2 separate regions of the Homo sapiens genome follow, and region 2 is linked to region 1. Evidence: fine-mapped expression QTL. A gene starts in region 1. The other region holds a variant in brackets. All regions are shown on one strand. Distances are from middle to middle. Region 1 holds the start of TNFRSF10B (TNF receptor superfamily member 10b). Region 2 overlaps TNFRSF10C (TNF receptor superfamily member 10c).

The links.
Region 2: its variant is fine-mapped to the expression of TNFRSF10B in whole blood (INTERVAL, PIP above 0.99).

Annotation. Positions count from the first base shown.
Region 1 is chr8:23,062,654-23,078,877 of GRCh38, forward strand. TNFRSF10B (TNF receptor superfamily member 10b) reads right to left here and starts at 6,378. Exons shown (of 9, transcript NM_003842.5): 1 at 6,098-6,378. The coding sequence starts at 6,241. It also overlaps the pseudogene TNFRSF10B-AS1. RefSeq lists enhancers at 5,762-6,021, 6,562-6,611, 6,632-6,801, 7,583-7,877, 8,199-8,698 and 2 more, promoters at 3,757-7,470, 6,238-6,908 and a cis regulatory region at 6,363-6,368.
Region 2 is chr8:23,103,373-23,113,869 of GRCh38, forward strand. TNFRSF10C (TNF receptor superfamily member 10c) reads left to right here. Exons shown (of 5, transcript NM_003841.5): 2 at 8,348-8,453. LOC254896 (a long non-coding RNA gene) reads left to right here. Exons shown (of 4, transcript NR_046173.1): 4 at 1-186. Among named protein-coding and RNA genes, the nearest start is that of TNFRSF10C, 5.7 kb to the left of the region's middle. RefSeq lists an enhancer at 1-423. The variant C/T (reference allele first, on the strand shown) is at 5,942.

The DNA of each region.
Region 1 (16,224 bases):
CTTCTTTTTTAATTAAACCATTTCTGGCTATAAATATCATAGATGGAATCAGATACTATATATGCTTTTCTGTCTGGTTTCTTTAACTCAGCATAATTATTTTGAAATTCGGTCATATTTTCATATGCATCAGTACTCCATTCCTTTTCATTACTGAGTTGTATGGCAGAATTAATATGGTAATATTATAAAATGTAGGAGACTTGAAATAATACAGATTGATTCATCTCCACTACTCATTCTTTCTGCTATAGTTGTCTCAGGCATGTTCATATGTTACAAACCCTACAAAGTGTTATATTACTTGATAGTGAATATTTTCAAGAAATTAAGAGGAAATAATCATTCTTTATATGTGCATTCATATTTCTATTCCTGATGATCTTCCTTCTTTCCTTAAGATCCATGTTCCCAGCCAGGCAAGGTGGCTCATGCCTGTAATCCCAGCACTTTGGGAGGCCAAGGCGGTGGATCTCCTGAGGTCAGTAGTTTGAGACTGGCCTGGCCAACATGGTGAAACCCGGTCTCTACTAAAAATACAAAAATTAGCTGGGTGTGGTGGCAAGCGCCTGTAATCCCAGCTGTTCAGGAGGCTGAGGCAGGAGAATCGCTTGAACCCAGGAGGCAGAGGTTGCAGTGAGCCGAGATTGCGCCATTGCACTCCAGCCTGGGCAGCAACAGTGAAACTGTCTCAAAAAAAAAAAAAAAAATCCATGTTTCCATTTCATTTCATCTCTATTCAGATTGAAATCTTTTAGCATTTTGTGTACTGCAGGTCTATGAGCAATGACGTGCCCATACTGTCTCCAATAGCACATTCAGGTTCCTAATTCTTAAAGCCATTTATGCCCATTTACTCTTTCTTATTTGGTAATGACCTCACCCAAGTCTCAGATTAGAAACACTAGAATCCACCACAAACCTCTTTCCTCTTCTTACCAAACCCATTGCATCACCGGCCTGCGTTATCATCATTTCCCTCAGATCTGCCTCAGCTGCCACTTGCCTCCTTCACGATAATGCAACCTGACCCTCACCCTAACCACTAGGACCCATCCCGAATGCTGTCCAGGCCACACCTGAGTGCACCCACCTAGTCCACTCTCCACTGGGTGAACAATGATCTTTAATGGGTGGATCTGATGAGGGATGTCCCCGGGGAAAACTTGACAATGGCCTTGGTGACTCTGGACTTGGGTGATCCTCCGTACTCTATTCAGATCCTCTGTTCTGTCCTCAGCCTGCCTGCCACACTCCCCACCTCTCACGTTTAACACACTCTATGAGCAGGCTGAGGACACAACGTCTGGGTTAGTGCAGCTTCCTAGAATCCACGTTACTCATTCATTCATTCATGGAAGGCATGTAGGCGCCTGGCGACCGCATATGCAAGGAGCCGTGGAGTATCGGGAACATGGCACGGCCCTTCCTTTCCTTAGCACAGTTTCCATTCACAGGAGCTGAGGCACAGCCATCATTAACCCCAAAGTCCATGAACTTGCAAAGAGTCTGGAGGGGCTGCCCAGGCAGAGGTGACAAATGCCATCGGTGGCAGGGACAGTAGTGGACATAGAGGAAAGAGTGCACACAGACAGAATCCCAGACAGACAGGAATCCAGTGTAATGGGGGAGGGGAGTAAAAACAAGAGAGGTACTGCTGAATTAATATTGTAATATGATTACAAAATGTAGGAGAGTTGAAATAATATAGATCCATTCATCACCATTCACTCTTTCTGCTGTGCAGGACGAGGCTGTGCCGTCCGTGGGCCTCTCTGATTGAGGGAGAATGGGCGTGTGGCCAGAGATGCACAGCTGTGTTGGGCCACAGAAATGGGCTCATGGGGGTGTCCATGGGCATGGTTAAGAGAGAGAAGGAAAACAAGAAGAAGGGAGGTCAGGGGTTTGGCTTATTTCAGTTCTTGTCCCATTGAATTCTAGGGACCCTGCCTCCTCCCGGACATGAGCCATTGGCGGGGTTTCCCTGTCTTGTGACTCACCCACCTGTGATTCAGGCTCCTTGCTTTACACCAAGTTTGAGCATAAAACCTGCTAATATTTCTCGTCAAAAATTAACCCGAGTAACCTCTTCTTTCCTCTCTGAGTCACCCACATCCTTAAAACTGCCCAGGATAATCACAGTTCCTGCATAGGTTGTTGTGTGAACTGAAAGTGTTAATATGTATGGAAAGTGCTTAAAACACAGAACTTTAAACACATGCTCTGATTAGTACGATCATTACCCTCAATGTTGATTTTAAGCAAACCATATTATCCTGGCCAAACTACCATGACCTGGAGCCTTGGGACTGCACAGCCTCCCTCTGTCAGTCAAATATGGAGGGATGACATCTCTGGAGCCAGCACAGCCACTCTGGAGGTGGGGGAGGTGACAGTGGTGGGACCTCATGCTTCCTGATAGTTATTTAGGTCCCTGCTGTCACCTGCTCCACCAGACTGTGGGCTCCAGGGAGTAGTCAGTATTCACACAGGGCTCATTTGTCCTTCCCCAACCCAGGCACAGATTTTCCCAGAGTAAAGGGTTCCTCCTCTACCTGATGAATGAATCACTCCTGTCCCCGCCGCCAAGCACATGCAGTGAGACTAGCTGTGGCCTCAGCTCACTGCGTAAGGACAGCCTCCAGCTACAGCAGGGGCAGAGGACCCTGTAGAGCTCTGTAGTCTCTGTTGAGAACCACAGGCAGGAACTCCCAGAGGCCAAGTGCAGGGCAGAGACTGGGAGAAGCAGCTGCCTGGAGGACTCTGGATCCTTGCAGAAGACATGTCCAGTGTCTGCTGAGACTGACTCTAGGTGCCTGAGAAGAAGCCACCCAGGGAAGGAGAGACTAGATTGTGGACCACTCAGGGCTGGGAGATCTGCATGTTCCCCTTCCCACAGTGGACAGAACGCATGCCAGGGTGCTGGCGAGTTACCATCAGAAGTCAACCACTATAACTTTAGTAGTTAACTAAATGAGCCCCTGAATAAGGCAACTGAACACAAGGTATATAGTTATATGTAGATAAAAGCTAGTATCAGAGGAGCAAACTGATCCTCAGTTTTCTGTGACCAGAATAATGCCCAATAGACTTTGAAAGAACACAGTGATGTTCGGTACCCAAGAAAGCAAAATTCACAATGTCAAGCAATAAGAAATTACTATGCATGAAAAAAAAAGTCCCTATGGGCAGGAAAAAAAATGTAATCAACAGAAACAGTGGCCGTAATAACAGATATAATGGTGTTGATAGATTAAATAACTTAAAACAGGTCATCTAAAGCTTACAAATATACTCAAGAATATTTAAAAAACAGAAAAACAAAAAACACCACCACCAAAATCATAGGTTGCGCACGGTGGCTCAGGCCTGTAATCCCAATACTTTGGGAGGACAAGGTGGGAGGATTCCTTGAGCGCAGGAGTTTGAGACCAGCCTGGGCAACATGGTGAAACCCCGTCTCTACTAAAAATACAAAAATTAGCCAGGTGTGGTTGCAAGTGCCTGTGGTCCCAGCTACTTGGGAGGCCGAGGTGGGAGGATCACTTGAGCCCAAGAGGTTGAGGCTGCAGTGAACTCTGACTGTGCCACTGCACTCCAGCCTGGGTGACAGAGTAAGACCCTGTCTCAAAAAAGAAAAACACAAAGATGACCAGGAAATAGATGGAAGATATTAAAAATGCCAAAAGAGAACTTCTAAAGTTCAAAAAATATATATCTGATATACAGTAGATGAGATTAACAGCAGGTTAGATTCTGCAGAAGCAGATCAATGAACTTGAAGAGCCCTCACAGGGAAATGTCCAAAGTGAAACATAGAAAATGATGGGGGAAAAAAAAGAACAGATACTAAGTTAGCTCTGATACAAAATCTAACATTCTAACGTAAATATAATAAGATCTCAGTCACCAGAAGAGACAGAGTATTTGAAGAAATAATGGCTGAAAATCTTCCAAGTAGAACATAAACTCGGCTGGGCGTGGTGGCTCACCCCTGTAATCCCAGCATTTTGGGAGGCTGAGGCGGGCAGATCACGAGCCAGACCATCCTGGCTAACACGGTGAAACCCCGTCTCTACTAAAAATACAAAAAGTTCGCTGGGCGTGGTGGTGCATGCCTGTAGTCCCAGCTACACGGGATGCTGAGGCAGGAGAATGGCGTGAACCCAGGAGGCAGAGGTTGCAGTGAGCTGAGATCCCACCACTGCACTCCAGCCTAGGCGACAGAGGCAAGACTCCATCTCAAAACAAACAAACAAACAAACAAAAACATAAACTCTAAAACCCCAAATCCAAGAAATTCAACATAACTCTGTTGTGGCTTTCTTTCTTTCTTTTTTTTGAGTTGGAGTCTTGCTCTTGTCTCCCAGGCTGGAGTGCAGTGGCGCCATCTCTGCTCACTGCAACTTCTGCCTCCCAGGTTCAAGTGATTCTCCTGCCTCAACCTCCCAAGTAGCTGGGATTGCAGGTGCCCACCACCACACCCAGCTAATTTTGTATTTTTAGTAGAGACGGGGTTTCACCATGTTGGTCAGGCTGGTCTCGAATCCCTGACCTCATGTGATCTGCCCGCCTCGGCCTCCCAAAGTGCTGGGATTACAGGCATGAGCTACCAGACCCGGCTGTTGTGGCTTTCTTTACAGAAAAGTCTCCAAGGAGAACATAAACTCTAAAACCCCAAATCCAAGAAATTCAACACAACCCAGTTGTGGCTTTCTTTACAGAAAAATCTTCCAAGTAGAAAGAACATGAAAGTCTAAAGCCAAAAATCCAAAAAATTCTTTATAGAGATAAAAAAAAAACCCCACAACAGAGCAAACAAACCAAATCACTGCAAACCAGTGCTAAGAAAAATCTTTAAAAGCAGCCAGAGACCAAAGATCCACCACCCAAAGAGAGGCAAGATGCCCTGGGGACCTAGGCCCACAGAAACCACAGCAGGAGGGGGAGGCAGAGGCCCCTGTACACTCTCCTCACTAGGACAGTTAGGTCCTCCCTCCACTCAGAGGTGAGACCAAGGACATACTGTGGTGTGGGGCGGAAACAGTGAAAACATGAGGTGTGTAACAATATCCCATGAAACTCCAATGCTTCACACTGACATTCTTCTAGGTCAACACCAGCATTCTCTTGACCTTCCTTTCACTGTTCCTCCTCTCCCTTCCAGCCCCTCTGTACAGTCTTGAGTTAGGTCTAGGCCCACACACTTCCCCACTCTGAGCTGCGGTCTCTTCCTCTGTAAAATGTGATGATTCAGAACCTCTCCTGGCCCCAAGCGCAGTTCCAGGCGCTGAGCACACCATGCTGTTCCCTACAAAGCCGACTCTTTGTCCCTTCCCCATTATCACGGATACTTGCCAAGAGGTGGCAAGAAAGGCTCTTCCCAGGCCAAAATGCAGCTGCTATTATCAAGCAGGTCAGGCCCCAAGTGCCACAACTCCCTTCTCCTAAATCTCGTTTTCCCAAGGAACCCCAAACAATGGCATTGGCGATGAGCGGCCCCGCACGCGTAGGGGCGCAGCCGCTAAGGAGGGGAAGGGGCCTCTCCAGCTGCGCCCGCGACGACTCCCGCGCACGGAACGGAACCACTGGGCCGCAGCGACCACAGGGGAGTTCTTCGCCGGCCGCAGGTTCAAAGCGATCTGCAATGAGCGCCTTTAGGAATTCATTCGAAGGCGCAAAAGAAAAAGAAATTAAGGCAGGAACTGAGCGAGGAAGGAAGGGAGGGAAAGAAAGGAAGAAAGAGAAAAAGAGAAAGAAACAGAAAGTAAGGAAAGAAAACAAAATCAAAGTCCGACGACCTCTCCGTGGCTTCACGCAGCTTACTCGGGAATTCCCTCCTTGTCGCCCTCCCCCACTGGATTCGGGAATTTACACCAAGTGGAGCGCGCGCTCTGTTCCCTGGCGGCCCAGGTCGCTCCTGCCCAACCCGGGGACCCATCTCTTCCCCCGACTCCGACGACTGGTGCGTCTTGCCCGGACATGCCCGGCCGCAGGCGACCCGGGCCACGCACCCCCGCCGTGTCCCCCTCTCTCCCTGCCCTCTCCAGGCGCCAGGCACGCTCTTCCCCAGCCAGGGACCGCGGCGGGGACTCACCAACAGCAGGACCGCGGCGACAACGAGCACAAGGGTCTTGGGGACCCGGGGCCCAGGCCTGGCTCCCCGCGCCTCCCTGGGTCCTGGGCCGTGCCTTTTCCGGGCCCCCGAAGCGGCCGGGGCGTTCTGTCCCCGTTGTTCCATGGCGGTAGGGAACGCTCTTATAGTCTCTCAGGCCCGTGGGTTTCAGCCCTTAAAGTAGATCGGGCATCGTCGGTGTATTTTGTGGGCGCAGAGATTGCGGGGTTCTCCGGCCGCGTGCTGATTTATGTGTCCAGGCTGACTTGGGGCGGCGCGGCTGTACTTTCACTGCCTCCGGGCAGGCGTCATTCGGGGCGGGGCGAATCAGATCCAATGTGCAACTGCAAATTCCACCACAGGTTGGTGACAATAAATAAGAGTCTCGTCAACGCAATCCTCCGCAAGCGCGTCCAAGTGGGGAGGGGAGGGGAAGGGACCGGAACTAACCTTCGCCCTGGCGGCTGCGCCCCGGGCTGTGGTTTGTTTCTGGGTCCTGTCCGCGCCAGGACAGGCACCGAAACTTGGGGGAAATGAGTTGAGGGAGGCACTTGGGGAGTTGACGCCTCCCGGGGTCGCGCGCTTGGCTGTGAACAGGGTCTTGAGGTTCAGAGTCCGCTTTCCAGGCGCGTCTTGATCTTCTCCCCTTCCCAGGGGCACCTGCCCCTTCTGTTCTCTCCTTCTCTCTTCTTTCCTTTTTTCTTTCGTTTTCTTTCGTTCTTTCGTCTTCTTTCCGTCCTTCCTGCTTTCTCTTTCCTTCCTTTCTCTCTTTCTCTTTCCTCCCTCCCTCCCCCTCCCCCTACCTCCCTTCCTTGTGGTTTATTTTTTGAGACAGTCTCTCTGTGGCTCAGATTGGTGAGCGGTGGTGTGATCCCGGCTCACTGCAACTTCCGTCTCCCAGGTTCAAGCGATACTCCCACCTCAGCCTCCCATGTAGCTGGGACTACAGGCCTGCACCACCACGCCTGGCTAATTTTTGTATTTTTAGTAGACACAGGGGTTCACTATGTTGGCCAAAAGACCATCGAACCCAGCTTACACTCACACCTAGTCCACAAATGTGCCTGTGTCCCTGCACCCTTGCTACACTTAGCTTTCATTTGTCACTAGTCTAGGAAATAAAACATGATACATCACATTGTTATGTATTTTCATTCCTTCATGGTACTGTGTCCGGAATTGGTGGGTTCTTGGTCTCACTGCCTTCAAGAATGAAGCCTCGGACCCTCGCGGTGAGTGTTACAGTTCTTAAAGGCGGCGTGTCTGGAGTTTGTTCCTTCTGATGTTCGGATGTGTTCGGAGTTTCTTCCTTCTGGTGGGTTCGTGGTCTCACTGGCTCAGGAGTGAAGCTGCAGACCTTCCCAGTGAGTGTTACAGCTCTTAAGGCAGTGGGTCTGGAGTTGTTCTTTCCTCCTGGTGGGCTCGTGGTCTCGCTGGCTTCAAGAGTGAAGCTGCAGACCTTCAAGGTGAGTGTTACAGCTCATAAAGGCAGTGTGGACCCAAAGAGTGAGCAGTAGCAAGATTTATTGCAGAGGGAAAGAAGGAAGCTTCCACAGTGTTACCACTGCTGGCTCTGGCAGCCTGCTTTTATTCTCTTATCTGGCCCCACCCACACCCTGCTGATTGGTAGAGCGGAGTGGTCTGTTTTGACAGGGCGCTGATTGGTGGTTTACAATCCCTGAGCTAGACACAAATGTTCTCCACTTCCCCACCAGATTAGCTAGATACAGAGTGTGGACACAAAGGTTCTCCAAGGCCCCACCAGACTAGCTAGATACAGAGTGTCAATTGGTGCATTCACAAACCCTGAGCTAGACACACGGTGCTGATTGGTGTGTTTACAAAACTTGAGCTAGATACACAGTGCCAATTGGTGTATTTACAATCCCTTAGCTAAACATAAAGGTTCTCCACGTCCCCACCAGACTCAGGAGCCCAGGTGTCGTCACCCAGTGGATCCCGCACCGGGGTTGCAGGTGGAGCTGCCTGCCAGTCCCGCGCCGTGCTCCCGCGCCGTGCGCCCGCACTCCTCAGCCCTTGGGTGGTCGATGGGACTGGGCGCCCTGGAGCAGGGGGAGGTGCTCGTCGGGGAGGCTCCGGCTGCACAGGAGCCCACGGAGGGGGTGAGAGGCTCAGGCATGGCGGTCCCGAGCCCTGCCCGTCGGGAAGGCAGCTAAGGCCCGGCGAGAAATCAAGCGCAGCGCCAGTGGGCCGGCACTGCTGGGGGACCCAGTACACCCTCCGCAGCCGCTGGCCCGGGTGCTAAACCCCTCATTGCCCGGGGCCGGCAGGGCCGGCCGGCTGCTCCGAGTGCAGGGCCCGCCGAGCCCACGCCCACCCGGAACTCCAGCTGGCCCGCAAGTGCCGCGCGCGCAGCCCCGGTTCCCGCTCGCGCCTCTCCCTCCACACCTCCGTGCAAGCTGAGGGAGCGGGCTCCAGCCTTGGCCAGCCCAGAAAAGGGCTCCCACAGTGCAGCGGTGGGCTGAAGGGCTCCTCAAGTGCCGCCAAAGTGGGAGCCCAGGCAGAGGAGGCGCCGAGAGCGAGCGAGGGCTGTTGAGGACTGCCAGCAAGCTGTCACCTCTCAGTACTACGGATTTTCAAGAATACAGGAGTTTTTGGTACTGGGAGTAGATGACTGGGGGGATCCAGGCAAGACTACAGGGGAGGGCGGCAGAGAAGACTTAATTCCCAGCTGTGTACTTGGAAAACCGTGCTCAGCTGGGGCCAGTCCCTGCCAACCGCCATGCCTGTTAATGGAAATAAGGTCTCCATCCTCAGGCTGTCAGGGTGACTTCAGATGAGCCTGGAGCTGAGCTCAGTTCCGGACCCCAGGTCCTGGCTCTGTCAATGCCGGACTGGTCCAATCTCTATGCCAGGTCCTTCCAACCCCATCCCTCTCTTTATCAAAGTAGGAATCAAGAAGATCCGAAGGCTCAGGCTCTCAGGTTGTTAGAGAGTACTGAAATTGGAGGCTGTGGATGGCTGGGCCCTGCCGTGCTCCCGGTCCAGCTCTGACTCTGGTATGGCCCCAGCTCCTTCCTGTAAAATGAGGGGATAAAAATCTTCAGCAGCCCTGTGTAAACTTCTGCAGGCTCTGTTAACAGGTCTAGGAGGACAAATTGCAGGGCTGGTGTCAGTCACTCTAGACTCTGGATCCCCAGGGCACATGTCCTCCACTCAGCAGAGGCTGCACCTTCTCCTACCTGTACCTCAGTACCAGCTCCCTGAGCTTGAGGCAGAAATTTCTGAAGACTGGGGTGGAGCGCCATGCGGAGGGGCCGTAGAGGAACAGACGAGCCAGAATTCAAATGAGGACGGTGATGGCACTGCAGGGCCACAGCCTGGTTTACCTGCCACTCTTCCAATTGTCTTTCTGTTGGGCACCCAGCCGGTGCCCCAGTTTGAAGAGTGAGCAGGAAAGGTCTCAATCCGTGTGGCCACAGATGGCTGTTCACAGCCTCTACTGAGAGACCACAGTCCCAGTTCCGGTTCTCTGTCCTGCATCCAGAAGTGGCAGGGCAGCGAGGCTCTAGCTTCCAGGTTGGGGATGGGGACAGTGGAGACAGTGCCATGCCCTGAGCCTGTGCTGTTGGGCAGCTGGTGTCCTGCTCCCAGCCAGAGACTGCACATCTTCATGTAGTGGATTTTCCTAACAACCTGGGGACATGAGAGTAGGTTGTTTTCCCTGTTTTACAAGTGGCAAAACTGAGATTCAGGAGCAGTGTCTCCAGCATTTTTGGCCTCACCTTCTGTATAATAGCAGCCATATTTGCACCTCTACAGGGCTAGAGTTCTCTGAGCAGCTGCTTCTCTATTCTCTGTCCTGCACTTGGCCTCTGGGAGCTCGTATGGTTCCTCAGCAGAGTCCACAGGGCCCTCCCTGTGCTACAGCCTGGAGCCTGTCAGGCGGTGAGCTGAAGCCACGACTGCACTCACCTCATGGGTTTGCGGGGAGAATGATTCACCCAGGAAGCAGACAGTGAGCCCTTTACTCTGGGAACACCTGTGCCTGGAGTCTGCTGAAGGCAGGGAGGACAAATGAACCCCATGTGAATCCTACTCCCTGGAGCCTACAGTGTGGTGGGAGAGGTGACACCAGGGGTCATATAACTAATAGGAGGTAGCATGAGGGAGGCCTGAGATCTCACCACCCTTGCCTCCCCCTCCTCCAGAGAGGCTGTGCTGGAGGGAGGCCATGCCATTGCAAGGCCATAGGATGTGGTATTGTTTGCCTGGAAGATGTGGTTTGATTACAGCCACCATTGAGGGTCATGGAGGCAAGCTAAGCTCCCTTTAAGGGTATTTTTTTTTTGGCTGGGCCTGAGAATTAAGTTGACATAAGACAGGTCCACAGGAGAAAAGCACACAAATTAATACAATGCAAGTTTTACATGGCACAGAAAAAGCAGTGAGAGTCAGTTACTTATATACTGAATTAGACCAAGTAACTTGGGAAGAAGCAAGTAAATATGTGGAGGCTAAAAAGATGAGTTATTCTATTCTTTTTTTTTTAATATCTGCTCCTTTAAGGAATAAAAAAGACAAGCTTACCTTTTAAAATATATTTTACATATGTATACAATCTAAATTTATTTTTCTCTCTTTATCCCTGAATACTTTATTATTTTTTTTTTAATTTTTTGGAGACAGAGTCTTGCTGTGTCGCCCAGTCTGGAGTGCAGTGGCATGATCTTAGCTCACTGCAAGCTCCGCCTCCTGGGTTCACGCCATTCTCCTGCCTCAGCCTCCCAAGTAGCTGGGACTACAGGTGCCCGCCACCACACCCGGCTAAATTTTGTATTTTTAGTAGAGACAGGGTTTCACCATGTTAGCCAGGCTGGTCTCTATCTCCTGACCTTGTGATCCACCTGCCTCGGCCTCCCAAAGTGCTGGGATTACAGGCGTGAGCCACCACGCCCGGCCTACTTTATTATTTTATTTTTACTTTAAGTTCTGAAATACATGCGCAGAATGTGCAAGTTCGTTACACAAGTATACTTTTGCCAGCGATGCACCTGCTGTTTTTCAATAGCCTTTAATTCATAATAGTCAATGGGCCAGGGTAGGCAGGGTGCAATGGCTCACACCTGTAGTCCTGCCAAGGCGGGCAGATCACTTGAGCCCAGGAGTTCAAGACCAGCCTGGGAAACATAGCAAAACCCATCTCTACAAACAATAACAACAACAAAACCCACAGAAAATTAGCCTGGTGCAGTGGCCTGCACCTGTAGTCCCAGCTGTTTAGGAGGCTGATGTGGGAGGATCACCTGAGCCTGGAAGGTTGAGGCTGTAGTGAGCCGTGTTCACACCACCGCACTCCAGCCTGGGAGACAGAGTGAGACCCCGTCTCAAAAAAAAAATTCTTTTAGTAATGATTATGCTATTCAGAGTGTGCGCTGAAATACAGCACTTCCCATAAGTCAGGCTCTATTCAGATCCCTTCATACAAATTCACACATTTAATTCTGACAGCAACCTGACTGTGCCGGAACTATAATTAAGTTGGTTCTCTTACGTGAGACACAGATCAACTCAGTAACTTGCTGAAGGTCACACAGCTATTCCTGGGGTGGGGGGCTGGGGGATGGGTGAGCCAACCTCAGGGGAGCAGCACCCACTGCCCAACTGGCTTCTGCTGCCTTTCCCAAGGGAGAATTTGCTGCTCACCTCATTCTGGGTCACTGCTGGGAGGCCTCTGAGAGCTCATTTAATGCCACTTCCTGTTTTCAGGAGAGAGAAACGTGAAGTTTAGAGAGGAAGGGAAGTGACTTCCCCGGACTCCTGCAGCTCTTTAGTGGCTGGCCCTGGTCTTGTACAGGGATAAAAAGAAACTCCACAAAACTCAGAAGTAGATCCCAGGCCACAGACTGAGAGAACAAGTCTGAGTTGATGTCTGGTCTTCTGAGTGATTGCTCAGTTCAGGGTCAACTGGCAGCTTTAAGGGTGTGTGTGCCCTGCAGAGGAAAGAGGAGCCTGCTTGGCTTGAGGGAGGGTGAGGGCCACACTGGGCTTTGCAACCACCTACCTATTGCATCACCAGTGGGGGATGTGCATGACCAGGAAACCCCCAGTTAATGACTCATCTGGGGAGAAGCCTGGATCTGCAGAGCCTTGCAGGAGAGGACCTGAGCAAGCCTCCACCCTCCTCCCTTCTCATTCTCCTTCTCTCTCCACCATGCCTCTGGCATGCTGCGCTCTCTCTCTCTCTCTCTCTCTCACACACACACACTCACTCACACACACCAGGAAAAGTTCAAGTCTGACAAAATTCTATGGACTGACACAGCCACACATCTCTGGCCACACACCCCTTCTCCCTCAATCAGAGGCCCGCATCCTGCACAGCCTCGTCCCAACCTCACTTGTTTTTACTCCCCTCCCCCATTACTTTGACTTACTATTTGTCTGGGATTCTGTCTGTGTGGACTTTCCCCTCTATGTCCACTAATGTCTCTGCCACTTATGGTACTTGTCACCTCTGCCTGAGCAGCCCCTCCAGACTCTTCACAAGTTCATGGACTTTGGGGTTAATGATGGCTGTGCCTCAGCTCCTGTGAATGGAAACTGTGCTAAGGAAAGGAAGGGCCATGCTGTGTTCCCGATACTCCACGGCTCCTTGTATGTGTGGTCGCCAGACGCCTATATTTCTTCCATGAGTGAATGAATGAGTAACGTGGATTCTAGGAAGCTGCACTAATGCAGATGTTGCGTTCTCAGCCTGCTCATAGAGTGTGTTAAACGTGAGAGGTGGGGAGTGTGGCAGGCAGGCTGAGGACAGAACAGAGGATCTGAATAGCATGCAGAGGATCACCCACATCCTGAGTCACCAGGACCATTGTCAAGTTTTCACCGGAGACATCGCCCATCAGATCAGCACTTCAGAGATCATTGTTTGCCCAATGCAGAGTGGATTAGGTGGGTGACCTCAGACATGGCCTGGGCAGCATTTGGGATGGGTCCTAGTGGTTAGGGTGAGGGTCAGGTTGCATTATCCTGAAGGAGGCAAGTGGCAGCTGAGGCGGATCTGAGGGAAATGATGATGATAATGCAGGCCGGTGATGCAATAGGTTTGGTAAGAAGAGGAAAGAAGTTCAAGGTGGATTCTGGTTTTCATAATCTGATATTTGGCTGAGATCATTACCAAATAAGAAGGAGCAAATGGGCATAAAGTGGCTTTAAGAATTAGCAATGTGAATATGATTTTGGAGACGCCACGGACACTTCATTGCTAGTAGACCTGCAGGACACAAAATGCTTCAGGCAGAAGAGATCTGACACCAAATGGAAACCTGGATCTTAAGGAAGAAAGGAAGGTCACCAGAAATATAAAGTTGGGGAAAATGTAAAGGATTATTACTTCTTCTTAGTTTCTTGAAAATATGTATTATCAATGATGATAACATTGCTGTGAGGTTCGTAAAGTATGCATAGTTAAGGCTTAGGAATACTGGGTGGTGATGAATGGACACATCTTGTTGCGAGTCTCTTACACTTTACATTAATATCACACAATTAATTCAGCAACACAACTCAGCCATGAAAAGGCAGTATTACTGCACATGGCCACAGGGATGGTTTTCAAAATGATCATGTCATGTGAAGGAATCCAAGCAGAATGCATACCGTCTGATTCCACTTCTTATTAAAATGCAACTAATCTAATCTATTGTGACAAAAAGCAGAAGAATCATTGCTGGGGACATAGGAGCAAAGCAGAAGAGAGGATTACACTGAAGAATGAACACATTCTGGGGGGTGGTAGACATGTCATTATCTTATTGTGGTGATAGTTTCGTAGTGTATACATACATCTCAATCTACCAAACTACACATTTTAAAAATGTACACTTTGTTTTATATTCATTATACCTCAATAAATTCTTTTTTTTTTTTTTTGTTTGAGATGGAGTCTCACTCTGTCGCCCAGGCTGGAGTGCAGTGGCGCGATCTCGGCTCACTGCAAGCTCCGCCTCCTGGGTTCATGCCATTTTCCTGCCTCACCCTCCTGAGTAGCTGGACTACAGGCGCCCGCCACCATGCCCGGCATTTTTTTTTTTTTTGTATTTTTAGTAGAGACGGGGTTTCATCAGGTTAGCCAGGATGGTCTGGATCTCCTGACCTCGTGATCTGCCCGCCTCAGCCTCCCAAAGTGCTGGGATTACAGGCATGAGCCACCGAGCCCAGCCAATAAATTCATTTTTTAAAAAACTTCAAATAGAATACAAACACTTGAGTGTATACTGTATTCCCTATAGCACTTGCACATAGATCAGGAAATATGTATACATTAAAAGTCAGTATCCAGTTGGGTGCAGTAACTCACGCCTGTAATCCCAGCACTTTAGAAGGCTGAGGTGGGTGGATCACGAGGTCAAGAGATCAAGACTATCCTGGCCAACATGGTGAAACCCCATCTACTAAAAATACAAAAAATTAGCTGGGTGTGGTGGCACAAGCCTGTAGTCCCAGCTACTTGGGAGGCTGAGGTAGGAGAATCACTTGAACCCTGGAGGCGGCGGTTGCAGTGAGCCGAGATCATGCTACTGCACTCCAGCCTGGTAACAGAGCGAGACTCCGTCTCAAGAAAATAAAATAAAATAAAATAAGCCGGTTGCGGTGGCTCACGCCTGTAATCCCAGCACTTTGGGAGGCTGAGGAGGGCAGATCACGAGGTCAGGAGATCGAGACCATCCTGGCTAACACGGTGAAACCCCATCTCTACTAAAAATACAAAAAATTAGCCAGGCTGGTGGCGGGCAATTGTATTTCCAGCTGCTGGGGAGGCTGAGGCAGGAGAATGGCGTGAACTTGGGAGGCGGAGCTTGCAGTGAGCCGAGATCGCGCCACTGCACTCCAGCCTGGGCAACAGAGAGAGACTCCTTCTCAAAAAAAAAAAAAAAAAAAAAAAAAAAAAAAGAAAGGAAAGGCAGTATCCAATTAAAATGGAATCCTAAAAGGTAACTAACATTAAAATGTGCAGGGGAAAAAGGAGCAAAAAAATTAGACTGGACAATCATTGCTTAAATGGTAAACTTACAGGTCTATTTCAACTGTATCAATTATTGCACTAACTGTAAATCCACTGGGCACTACCGTTCAAAGGTAGAAATGGTTGGAAGGGCTGAGAAAGCAAGACTCAACTAGATCTTGTCTATACGAGATGGGACTTAAAAGGAAGACACAGATACTGTCTGTTGAAAGTAAGTGGATGGGAAAAGATACATCATGCAAATCCTAAGGCCAAGAAAACTGCCGTGGCTATCTCAGTATCAGACGTAGTTGATTTTGCTAGCAGTGGACAAGATCCGAGTTACCCTACGTTGATGGCAGCGAATCCATACGGGCCCACAGCAACTTCAGCTCTTCACCTCCTGATAAGAAAGAATTCGACTGAGGGTCATAAGGCAGAAGGAGAGATGGAGGCAAGTTTTAGAGCAATAGTGAGTTTATTAAAAAGCTTTAGAACAGGAAGGAAAGGAAAGAAAAGAAGGAAAGTACAACTTAGAAGATGGCCAAGCAGGTGACTTGAGAAGCCAAGTGTGCAGCCTGAACTTGTGACTTGGGGATTTATAGGTAGGCATACTTCCAGGATTTTGCCTTGCTTCTCCCCACTCCTGAAATCTTGTTAGGAAGTTGCTGATCAGTTTCAGTTGTTTTCTATGTATTAGGAGACTGCCTTTTTCTGGCATCGGCTGTAACCAGTTATTACTTTAGAGAAACAGTTAAAAACCACCTAACCATCACCTGATGTTCGCTCAACCCTCCTAGTGTAAGAAGCGGTGGGGAGCCCTCTCCTGCCCAGCTCATACCTGACTAGCTACACAGGGTAACAATTTTAGGACATAGAATATTATGGGAGATCAAAAAGAACCTTTGCAGTTAAAAAGGTTAATTCATCAGGGAGTATAATAATCACAAATTGTATATGCCTAGTAATACAGCTTAAAAACACTTGAAGCAAAAATGGAATGAAAATGAGATTAAATCAGCTCTTTCTCTGCAATTGATAGAACAATCAAATGAAAACACTAGCAAAGTGGCAAGCAATCTGCAAACTATCAACCACCTTGATTTAATTGACATTTATTTATTTATTTTATTTTATTTTT
Region 2 (10,497 bases), 38 kb after region 1:
AGGGAGCAGAGAGGCGGTCCCCCTGGCTGCCCCGAGCCCGCGAAGGGAGGGAAGTTCCAGAATCGAGAGAGGGAGGGAGTCAAGGTGGAACCCATAGAGTGAGCCTCCTGAAGACACAGAGCGGTTGCCTCTCTCATTAATTAATTAATTAGTTAATAAAATTAACCCCATGTTTACATTCTTAAACGTGTTCCTTGGAGATCGGTTTAACCAACAGCCAGTGAAAAAACTTTTCAGCGCTGTCTTTAGCAACTTTCACCTCCTCTGTCCTGAAAGTGGCAGGAAGCCGGAATGTGGCAGGAAGCGGTTAACCAAGGTGCTGCCTTGGTTAATGTCTTCCACTACCACCCGTGTGTCCCCTCTGTATCCCATAGGCAGGACCGGGGCTGGCCCCTTCCTTCAGCATAAACGGTGTAAAGTTGTTGTGAGTTGGCTTTGGAAACTGAGATTGGTAGTAGTGTGAGTGCAAGGACATATTATGTATAAAATATGCAGACTTCTAGGTCTCTTTCAGATTGATTGAGGTTTTTGCTAACAGCCCTTTTTAAGATTCTTTATGTAATACAAAAAAAAGAAAAAAGAAAAAGAAAAGGCCAAAGCAAGGTTACAGAAACCATGAGAGTTTGCATGTTGTCTTTCTACAAATTAATGCTAAATTCAGAAAAGCAGTAACATTTTCACCTCTCAAAAATTACACAACTGACTTTTAAAATAGTTTATAGTGGGTGGACTTACCTGAGGCAGCTAGAAGAATGGCTGTGTCAGGACAGTGGCCCTGAAGAGAGAATGCATGGATGACCAGTGTAGACAAGGCCAGCAACATCAGTTTCACGGTTTTGGGAATGTGAACTCTATGCGTCCCAAAGGAGGCTTTAATCCCTCCATCAGTCTTGCCTTATTAAATGCATTTAAATGTACAATCACTTTGTTAAATTTTGGAGCTAACACAAATCACATTAGATGTTTTATGGCAGTACATTCAGATTGATCTTCTTTTAAACAAGGGTATTGTATTTTACTGCATGGGTAAGCCACATTTTAATTCACTGTTGCCGCCTAGGGGCAGCTGGTTAGATCCCATCCTGACGGCCTTTGCTAATTCCAACAGCATTGTACTAAATACCCTTGTATGTATCGTGTGTCCACATATCCATGCACACCAGCTTATTGGGCAACTCCTTACAAGTTGAATTCTACTTCTCCTTCTGTGGGATAAATGACTTCAGAAGTTTCTTTAAATGTTCACGAATTTTCCTCCAAAAAACCACTGAACCCAGCTTACAGTCACACCTAGTCCACAAATGTGCCTGTGTCCCTACACCTTTGCTACACTTAGCTTTCATTCTTTACTAGTCTAAGATGTAAAACATAACACATCACATTGCTATGTATTTTTGTTTCCTCATGGTATTAGGAATTTTCAAGGATATAGGAGTTTTTTGGTACTGGGAGTAGACCAGGGTATCCAGATGAGACAGCAGGGAAGACTGAATTCTGAGCTGTGCACTTGGAAAACCCTGGTCAGTTGGGGCCAGTCCCTGCCACCCACCATGCCTGTGAATGGAGATAAGGTCTCCATCCTCAGCCTGTCAGGGTGACTTCAGATGAGCCTGGAGCTGAGTTCAGTTCCTGACCCCAGGTCCTGGCTCTGTCAATGCTGGGCTGGTCCAATCTGTGCGCCAGGTCCTTCCACACCATTCCTCTCTCTATCAAAGTAGGAATTGAGAAGTTCCAACGGCTCAGAATCTCGGACTCTCAGGCTGTCAAGGACTCCTGAGATTGAAGGTTGTGAATGGCTGGGCCCTGCCGTGCTCCCCCTCTGGCTCTGTGACTCTGGTGTGGCCCCAGCTCCTGCCTGTAAAGTGAAGAGGAGGTAAAAATCTTCAGCAGCCCTGTGTAAACCTCAGAGGGCTGTGTTACCAGGTGTGGGAGGACAAATCACATCCTCAGGGCTGGTGTCACTCACTCTGGACTGGATCCCCAGGCACCTGTCCTCCATCCAGCAGAGGCTGCCCCTGTTCCTACCTGCACCCTGGTACTTGCTCCCTGAGCTTGGGGCAGAAGCTTCTGAAGACTAGGGTGGAGCACCACGGGGAGGGGCCATGGAGGAACAGAGGAGCCAGACGTCAAGTGAGGACAGCGATGGCACTGCAGGGCCACAGCCTGGTTTACCTGCCATGCTTCCAGTTGTCCTTCTGGTAGGCGCCTGGCCCGGGTTGTAGTTTGAAGAGTGAGCAGGAAATGTCTCCATCCAGGTGGCTGCAGATGGCTACTCACCCAGGCTGTACTGAGAGGCCACAGTCCCAGTTCTGGTCCTCTGTCGTGTATCCAGGAGTGGCAGGGCAGTGAGGCTCTAGCTTCTAGGTCAGGGATGGGGACAGTGGGGACAGTGCCATGCCCCGAGCCTCTGCCGTTGGGCAGCTGGTATCCTGCTTCCAGCCAGAGAATGCACATCTTCATGTAGTGGATTTCCTAACAACCCGGGGAGATGAAGGTAGGTTGTTTTTCCTGTTTTACAAGTGGTAAAATGAGATTCAGGGCTAGAGTTCTCTGAGCAGCTGCTTCTCTGATCTCTGTCCTGCCCTTGGCCTCTGGGAGCTCTTATGGTTCCTCAGCAGAGTTCACAGGGCTCTTGGAGCCTGTCCTTCGGCCTTGAGCTGAGGCCACAACTGCGCGCACTTCATAGGCTTGAGGGGAAAGTGATTCATCCAGGAAGTAAACAGTGAGCCCTTTACTCTGAGAACACCTGTGCCTGGAGTCCGCCGGAGTTTGGGAGGACAAATGAACCCCATGTGAATCCTGTTCCCTGGAGCCCGCAGTGTGGTGGGAGAGGTGACCCAGGGATTATATAACTAATAGGAGGTAGCATGAAGGAGGCCTGAGATCTCACTACCCTTGCCTCCCCCTCCTCCAGAGAGGCTGTGCTGGAGAGAGGCCATGCTGTTGCAGGGCCATAGGATGTGGTACTGTTGGCCTGGAAGATGTGGTTTGATTACAGTCACCATTGAGGGTCAGGGAGGGGAGCGAAGCTCTCCTTTAGATGCCCCCCCACCCGATTTTTTTTTTTTTTTTTTTAGCTGGGCCTGAGAATTTGATTCACCTAAGAGAGGTCCACAGGAGACAAGCACACACATTTATTTAATTCAAGTTTTACCTGGCATGGAAGAACCTGTGAGAGTCAGTTACTTATTTACTGAATTAGACCAAGTAACTCATGAAGAAGCAAGTAACTATGTGAGGAGCTAAAAAGATGAGAGTGGATCCATTCTAACATGGTCTGCACAGTACCCTCTTGGCCTCGACTTCTCATCCTTAAAAATAAGGAAATTGTCAGCTGGGTGCGGTGGCTCACGCCTGTAATCCCAGCACTTCGGGAGGTCAAGGCAGGTGGATCACGAGGTCAGGAGATCGAGACCATCCTGGCTAACACAGTGAAACCCCGTCTCTACTGAAAATACAAAACAATTAGCGGAGTGTGGTGGCGGGTGCCTGTAGTCCCAGCTACTGGAGAGGCTGAGGCAGGAGAATGGTGAGAACCTGGGAAGCAGAGCTTTCAGAAAAAAAAAAAAAGGAGATTGTCCTATGTTTCCCTGGGGACTTTCATCTCCTGCTTTTAGGAAACACAAAAGAGGTCAAAGGATCTTCTTGCACCTGTTGTTTTTCAATAGCCTTTAATTCATAATAGTCAATTGACCAGGGTGGGCAGGGTGCGATGGCTCACACCTGTAGTCCTGCCAAGACAGGCAGATCACTTGAGCCCAGGAGTTCAAGACCAGCCAGGGCAACATAGCAAAACCCGGTCACAACAACAACAACAAAAAACCAAACAAACAGAAAAACAGAAAAACACAGAAAATTATGTCGTGTGAAGGAATCCACACAGAATGCTTACCATCTGATTCCATTTCTCATTAAAATTCGACCAATCTATTCTGACAAAAAGCAGAATTATTGCTGGGGACATAGGAGCAAAGCGGAAGAGAGGATTACATTGAAGAATGAAGAAATTCTGGGGTGTGGTGGACATGTCATTTTCTTATCGTGGTGGTAGTTCCACAATGTATACACACGTCTCAATCTACCAAACTACATGCTTCAAAAATGTACACTTTGTTTCATGCCCATTATACCTCAATGAATCCATTTTTAAAAAACCTTCAATAGAATGTAAACACTTGAGTGTATACTGTATTCCCTATAGCACTTGCACATAGATCATGGAAATAGGTATGCATAAAAAGTCAGTTTATCCAATTAAAATGGAATTCTAAAAGGTAATTAACATTAAAATGTGCAGGGGGAAAAGGAGTAAAAAAATTAGACTAGACAATCATAGCTTAAATGGTAAACTTACAGGTCTATTTCAACTATATCAATTATTGCACTCCCTGTAAATCCACTGAGCACTACAGTTCAATGGTAGAAATGTTTGGAAGGGCTGAGAAAGCAAGACTCAACTATATCTTGTCTATATGAGATGGGCCTTAAAAGGAAGACACAGATGTTGTCTGTTGAAAGTAAATAGATGGAAAAAGATACACCATGCAGAGTGTAAGGCCAAGAAAACTGCCATGGCTATCTCAGTATCAGATGAAGTTGATTTTGTTAGCGGTGGATGAGATCCGAGTTACCCTACGTTGAAGGCGGCGAATCCGTATGCGTCCACAGCACCTTCAGCTCTTCGCCTCCTGAGAAGAAAGAACTGGTTTGAGGGGCATAAGGCAGAAGCAGAGATGGAGGCAAGTTTCAGAGCAGGAGTGAAAGTTTATTAAAAAGCTTTAGAACAGGAAGGAAAGGAAGGAACAGGAAGGAAAGGAAGGAACAGAAAGAAAAGAAGGAAAGTACACTTGGAAGATGGCCAAGCAGGTGACTTGAGAAACAGTACGCAGCCGGACCGCCTGAGTTGGGGTTTTATAGGTTGGCCTACTTCCAGGATCTTGCCTTACTTCTCCCCACTCCTGAAATCTTATTGGGAAGCTGCTGATCAGTTTCAAGTGTTTTCTATGTATTAGGAAACTGCTTTTTTCTGGCATCGGCTGTAACCAGTTATTACTTTAGAGACACAGTTATCAACTACCTGATGGTCGCCCAACACTGCTGGTGTCAGAAGCGGGGACCCCTCTCCTGTCCTGCTCATACCTAACTAGCTGCCTACTGTGACAATTTTAGGACATTGAATATTATGGGAGATGAAAAGGGACCTTTGTAGTTAAAAGGGTTAATTCTTCAAGGAGTATAATAACAACAAATTGTATATGCCTAGTAATACATCTTCAAAACACATGACACAAAAATAGAATTAAAAAGAGATTAACTCAGCTGTTTCTCTGCACTTGCTAGCATGATTAGATGAAAATGCCAGTAAAGTGGCAAGCGATCTGCACACTATCAACCACCTTGATTTAACTGACATTTAAAGAGCAGGAGTGGAACATTCACTGAACACTCATTCCTTTCTATGCTCATGATACTTTCACCAAGATAGACCAGGTTCTGGGCTATAAAACACACAATATGATCTCTAAACTTAATGAAACTAAACTGGAAATCAGTAACAATATCCACAGAGAATTCTAAAATTTTGATATTGAACAACACACTTCTAAAAATCTGTGGTTCAGACAGGAAATCAAAAGGGAAGGTAAGATATTTCAAAGTAAGTAATAATGACAATATAACACATCAAAAGTGGTGCGAAATAGCTAACAGTGCTCAGGGTGAAATATACAGCTTTCAATGTTTGTATTAAAAAACTGGGGGTTAGGGAGATGGGGAGTTACTGCTGAAGGGTATGTAGTTCCTTTCTGGAGTGATAAAAATATTCTAAAATTGATTATAGTGATGATTGCATAGCTATGAGTATATTAAAAACTGCTGAAGTGTGGACTTTAAATGGGTGAATTATATGAATAATCATAATTATTAATTATGTGAATTGTGT[C/T]TCACTAAAGCTGTCAAAAAAAGAAAAAACGTGAAAATTATGGGCCGGGCACGGTGGCTCACATCTGTAATTCCAGCACTTTGGGAGGCCGAGGAGGGTGGATCACGAGGTCAGAAAATCGAGACCATCCTGGCTAACACGGTGAAACCCTGTCTCTACTAAAAATACAAAAAATTAGCCAGGCGTGGTGGCGGGCACCTGTAGTCCCAGTTACTTGGGAGGCTGAGGCAGGAGAATAGCATGAACCTGGGAGGTGGAGCTTGCAGTGAGCCGAGATTGTGCCACTGCACTCCGGCCTGGGAGACAGCGAGACTCCATCTCAAAAAAAAAAAAGAAAAAGAAAAAGAAAATTATGGCCTGAGGAGCTACATTAATCAATCATAAAATATAAGTGTAAATTTAAACCAAACAAAGTAACAGGAAGGAGCATAAATCAAAGAATACAAACCACAGAAAGAACTGAGAAAACCAACTGTGTGCGGTGGCTTACGCCTGTAATCCCAGTACTTTGGGAGGCCCAGGCAGGCAGATCACTTGAGCTCAGGAGTTAAACCACTCTGGGCAACATGGCGAAACCCCAGCTCTACAAAATATGTGAAAATTAGATGGGCGTTGTGGCACACACCTGTCTTTGGGGACTGAGGTGGCAGGACCACTTGAGCCTGGGAGGCAGAGGAGGCAAAGGTTGTAGTGAACCGAGATTACACCACTGCACTCTGCGCTCCAACATGGAGGACAGAGGGAGACCCTGTCTCCAAAAAAAAAAAAAAAAAAAAAAAAAAGACAAAATGAAAAGTTGGTCTTCTGAAAGGATTTTAAAAAACACTAATAAACCCCTCATTAAATGAGAGGGAGTAAGAGTGTGAGAGCAGAGAAAGGAGACGCAGACATCGCCTGAACCTAGAGGGACTCCAACCCGGGAAAGAATGATTTGGGAAAAGTGGGTTAGCTTCACTGTCACCAACTGCTAGTCAGGCTTTGATGTGGAAGAAAGCTACATTTTGTCTTGTTTAGATCCAGGCAGTTGAACTGAGCCCAACATAAGCAGCTTTCATTGTAACCATTTTGGTTTTGCTTAAATTAATTTCCTACTTTAAAACACTCCCAACTTAAAGAAAAGTTACAAAAACTATACAATAAAAACATTTGAAAAAATGGCTGTTGGCATGATGAAAGCTATTATTGAATTCTTTAGTGTGTACTTTCTACAAACAAGGAAATTAACATCAACACATTACCACTATCTATCCGCACTCTATTCCGATTTCTCCAGTTGTCTTCTAGTTGTCATTTATAACATAGAGATCATGGCCAGAATCCCTGAATTGCTGTTTCATCTTTTTTGTCACTCTTTGATATTTAGTGGGAGCAGCTTGACAAGGTCCTTTGTAAAGCAGTAATTAATTACTTAATGTTTGATGCTATATCCTGACTTTCTGTAAGGTTATATATATTATAACCTTCATTTGTAAAGCTGAGTATGTTTAAGTGTGTGTCTGTGTGTATTTGTGTGTGTGTGAGTGAGAGACAGAATTCACCTATTGGTCAATTAAACACTTGGTGAAACTAAATATATTAAATGCTATTTCTGCATGAAGGGCTCATATGTGTGTGGTTTTTTAAAATTCTTATAAAATCTTTTCTTTCCAACCATGGTGGCATGTGCCTCTTATCCACATTTCTTGGGAGACTGAAGCAGGAGGATCACTTCAGGCCAGGAGTTCAAGCCTATAGTAAGATATGATCACACCTGTGAATAGCCACTGCATTCCAGCCTGGGCAACATAGCAAGACTCTGTATCAAAAAAACAAAATAGCTCTTCTTGCTCCCATTATCTGGGGTAAATTTATGTTATAATATGAGAAAAGGATACATAAGTGTTTTTCTTTTTCTTTTCATTTTTTCTTTTTTTTTTTTATTTGAGATGGAGTCTCGCACTGTCACCACATTGGAGTGCAATGGCGCGATCTTGGCTCACTGCAACCTCTGCCTCTCAGGTTCAAGCTATTCTCCTGCCTCAGCCTCCTGAGTAGCTGGGATTACAGGTGTGTGCCACCACACCCAGCTAATTTTTGTATTTTTAGTAGAGACAGGGTTTCACCGTGTTGGCCAGGATGGTCTCGATCTCTTGACCTTGTGATCCACCTGCCTCAGACTTCCACATTGCTGGGATTACAAGCTTGAGCCATCGCGCTTGCCTGTATTTTTTTTTTTTTTTATAGAAAATAGCTGGCCCTAACAGGCCAAGGGACAAACACAGGTATGAAAGAATGAAAGTTTGGAGCTGGAAAAAATGTCCAAGCTCTGATGGGTTTTGTCACTTGGGGTGAAGGGAATGTGAGATGGAGCCTGGGAGGGGTGAGGTCTGGAAGTCACTCACACCCATCACTCCTTTGTCCCCACAGGTCCTAGCTTACTCTGCCACCACTGCCCGGCAGGAGGAAGTTCCCCAGCAGACAGTGGCCCCACAGCAACAGAGGCACAGCTTCAAGGGGGAGGAGTGTCCAGCAGGTGCACTCTTATTTTTAAAAATCAGTTTATTTTTAATTGACAGATAAACATTGTATGTATTTATGATGTACACCATGATGTTTTGAAATATGTACGCATTGTGGAATGGCTAAATCAAGCTAATTCACATACTTAATCATGTATTCGTGGTAAGAACACTTAAAAATCTGCTCAGCAATTTTCAGCTGTATGGATACAGAGCCCTGGGATAAGCCCTCTTTGCCCTTTTTATCTGTGGGTTCTGTAGCCTTCCTTATCTATGGGTTCTGTATCCATGGTTGCAACAAACCACAGATCAAAAATATGCGGAAGAAATAAAAATGATAATACATCAATAAAAGCAGATAAAAAGCAATGCAGTATAGCACTTATTTACATAGCATGTCTATTGCATTAGGTATTACAAGTAATCTAGAGATGATTTAAAGCATATGTGCGTGGGTTTTATGCAATACTATCCCAATTTATATCAGGGACTTGAGTATATGCAGAGTTTGTTCCATGGAATATATTCCCTGTGGATAGAAGGCAGGACTGTACAACACATTGTTTTAATAACTGTAGTCGCCATGTCACACAATACATCTCTTGAATTTATTCTCCCTGTCTAACTGAAATTTTGTATCCTTTGACTAACATCTCCCCATCCCACCATCCAACTCAAGCCCTGGTAATCACCATTCTGCTCTCCACCTCTATGAGACCAACTTTTTCTGATTCCACATATGTGAGATCATGAGGTGTTTGCCTTTCTGTGCCTGGCTTATTTCACTTAGCATAGTATCCTCCAGCTTCATCCATGCTGACACAAATGACAGAACTCCCTTCTTTTTAAAGGCTGAATAGTATTCCATTGTATCTATGTGTCACATTTTCTTTAACTTTTCATCCATCCATGGACACGTAGGTTGATTCCATGTCTTGACCATTGTAAATAATGCTCCAATGCATATGGGAGGGAAGATATCTCTTCAATATACTGACGTCATTTCCTTTGGATGTATACCCAATAGTGGGATTGCTAGATCATATAGTTGTTCTATTTTTTGTTTTTTGAGGAACCTCCATACTGTTTTCCATAATGGCTGTACTAATTTCCATTCCCACCAACAGTGTACCAGCATTCCTTTTTCTCCCCATCATCAACACTTGTTACCTTTTGTCTTTTTGGTAATAGCCATTCTTACAGGTGTGAAGTGATATTTGGCACTTGATGGTTAGTGATGCTGAGCATTTTTTTCATATACTTTTTGGCCACTTCTATGTCTCCTTTTGAGAAGTGTCTATTCAGGTCCCACGCCCATGTATCCATTTTACTTGGATTATTTGATTGTGTGCTATTGAGATGTTTGAGTTCCTGTGTATTTTGGATTTTAACCAAAATCTTGGATCTTTTGAATATTGACCCTCATTCTGTAGGTTGTCTCTTCACTCTGTTCATTGTTTCCTTTGTCATGCAGAACCTTTTTAGTGTAATGTAACCTCATTTGTCTGTTTTTCCTTTTGTTGCCTGTGCTTTTGGGGTCATAGTCAAGAAACCATTGCCCAGACCAACATCATGAAAATTTTCCCCTATGTATTCTTGTGGTAGTTTTACCATTTCAGATCTTATGTTTTAATCTTTAGTCCATTTTGAATTAATTTTTACATATGATGTGAGATAAAGGTCTTATTTCATTCTTCTGCATGTCAATACCTACTTTTCTCAACACCATTTATTGAAGAGCTGTCCTTTCCCCATTTTGTGTTCTTGGTATCTTTCTCACAATCAATCAACTGTAAATGCATTGATTTATACCTGGGTTCACTATTTTGTTCCATCAGTTTATTTACCATTGTTGTGCCATTACCATTCAGTTTTGATTACTATACTTTTGTAACACGTTTTAAAATCAGGTAGTACGATGCCTCCATCTTTGTTCTTTTGTTTGTTTTGCTTAAGATCACTTTGGCTATTTGAGGTCTTTTGTAGTTCCATACAAATCTGGGCGTGGTGGTGCGTCGCCTATAATCCCAGCTACTCGGGAGGCTGAGGCAGAAAAAT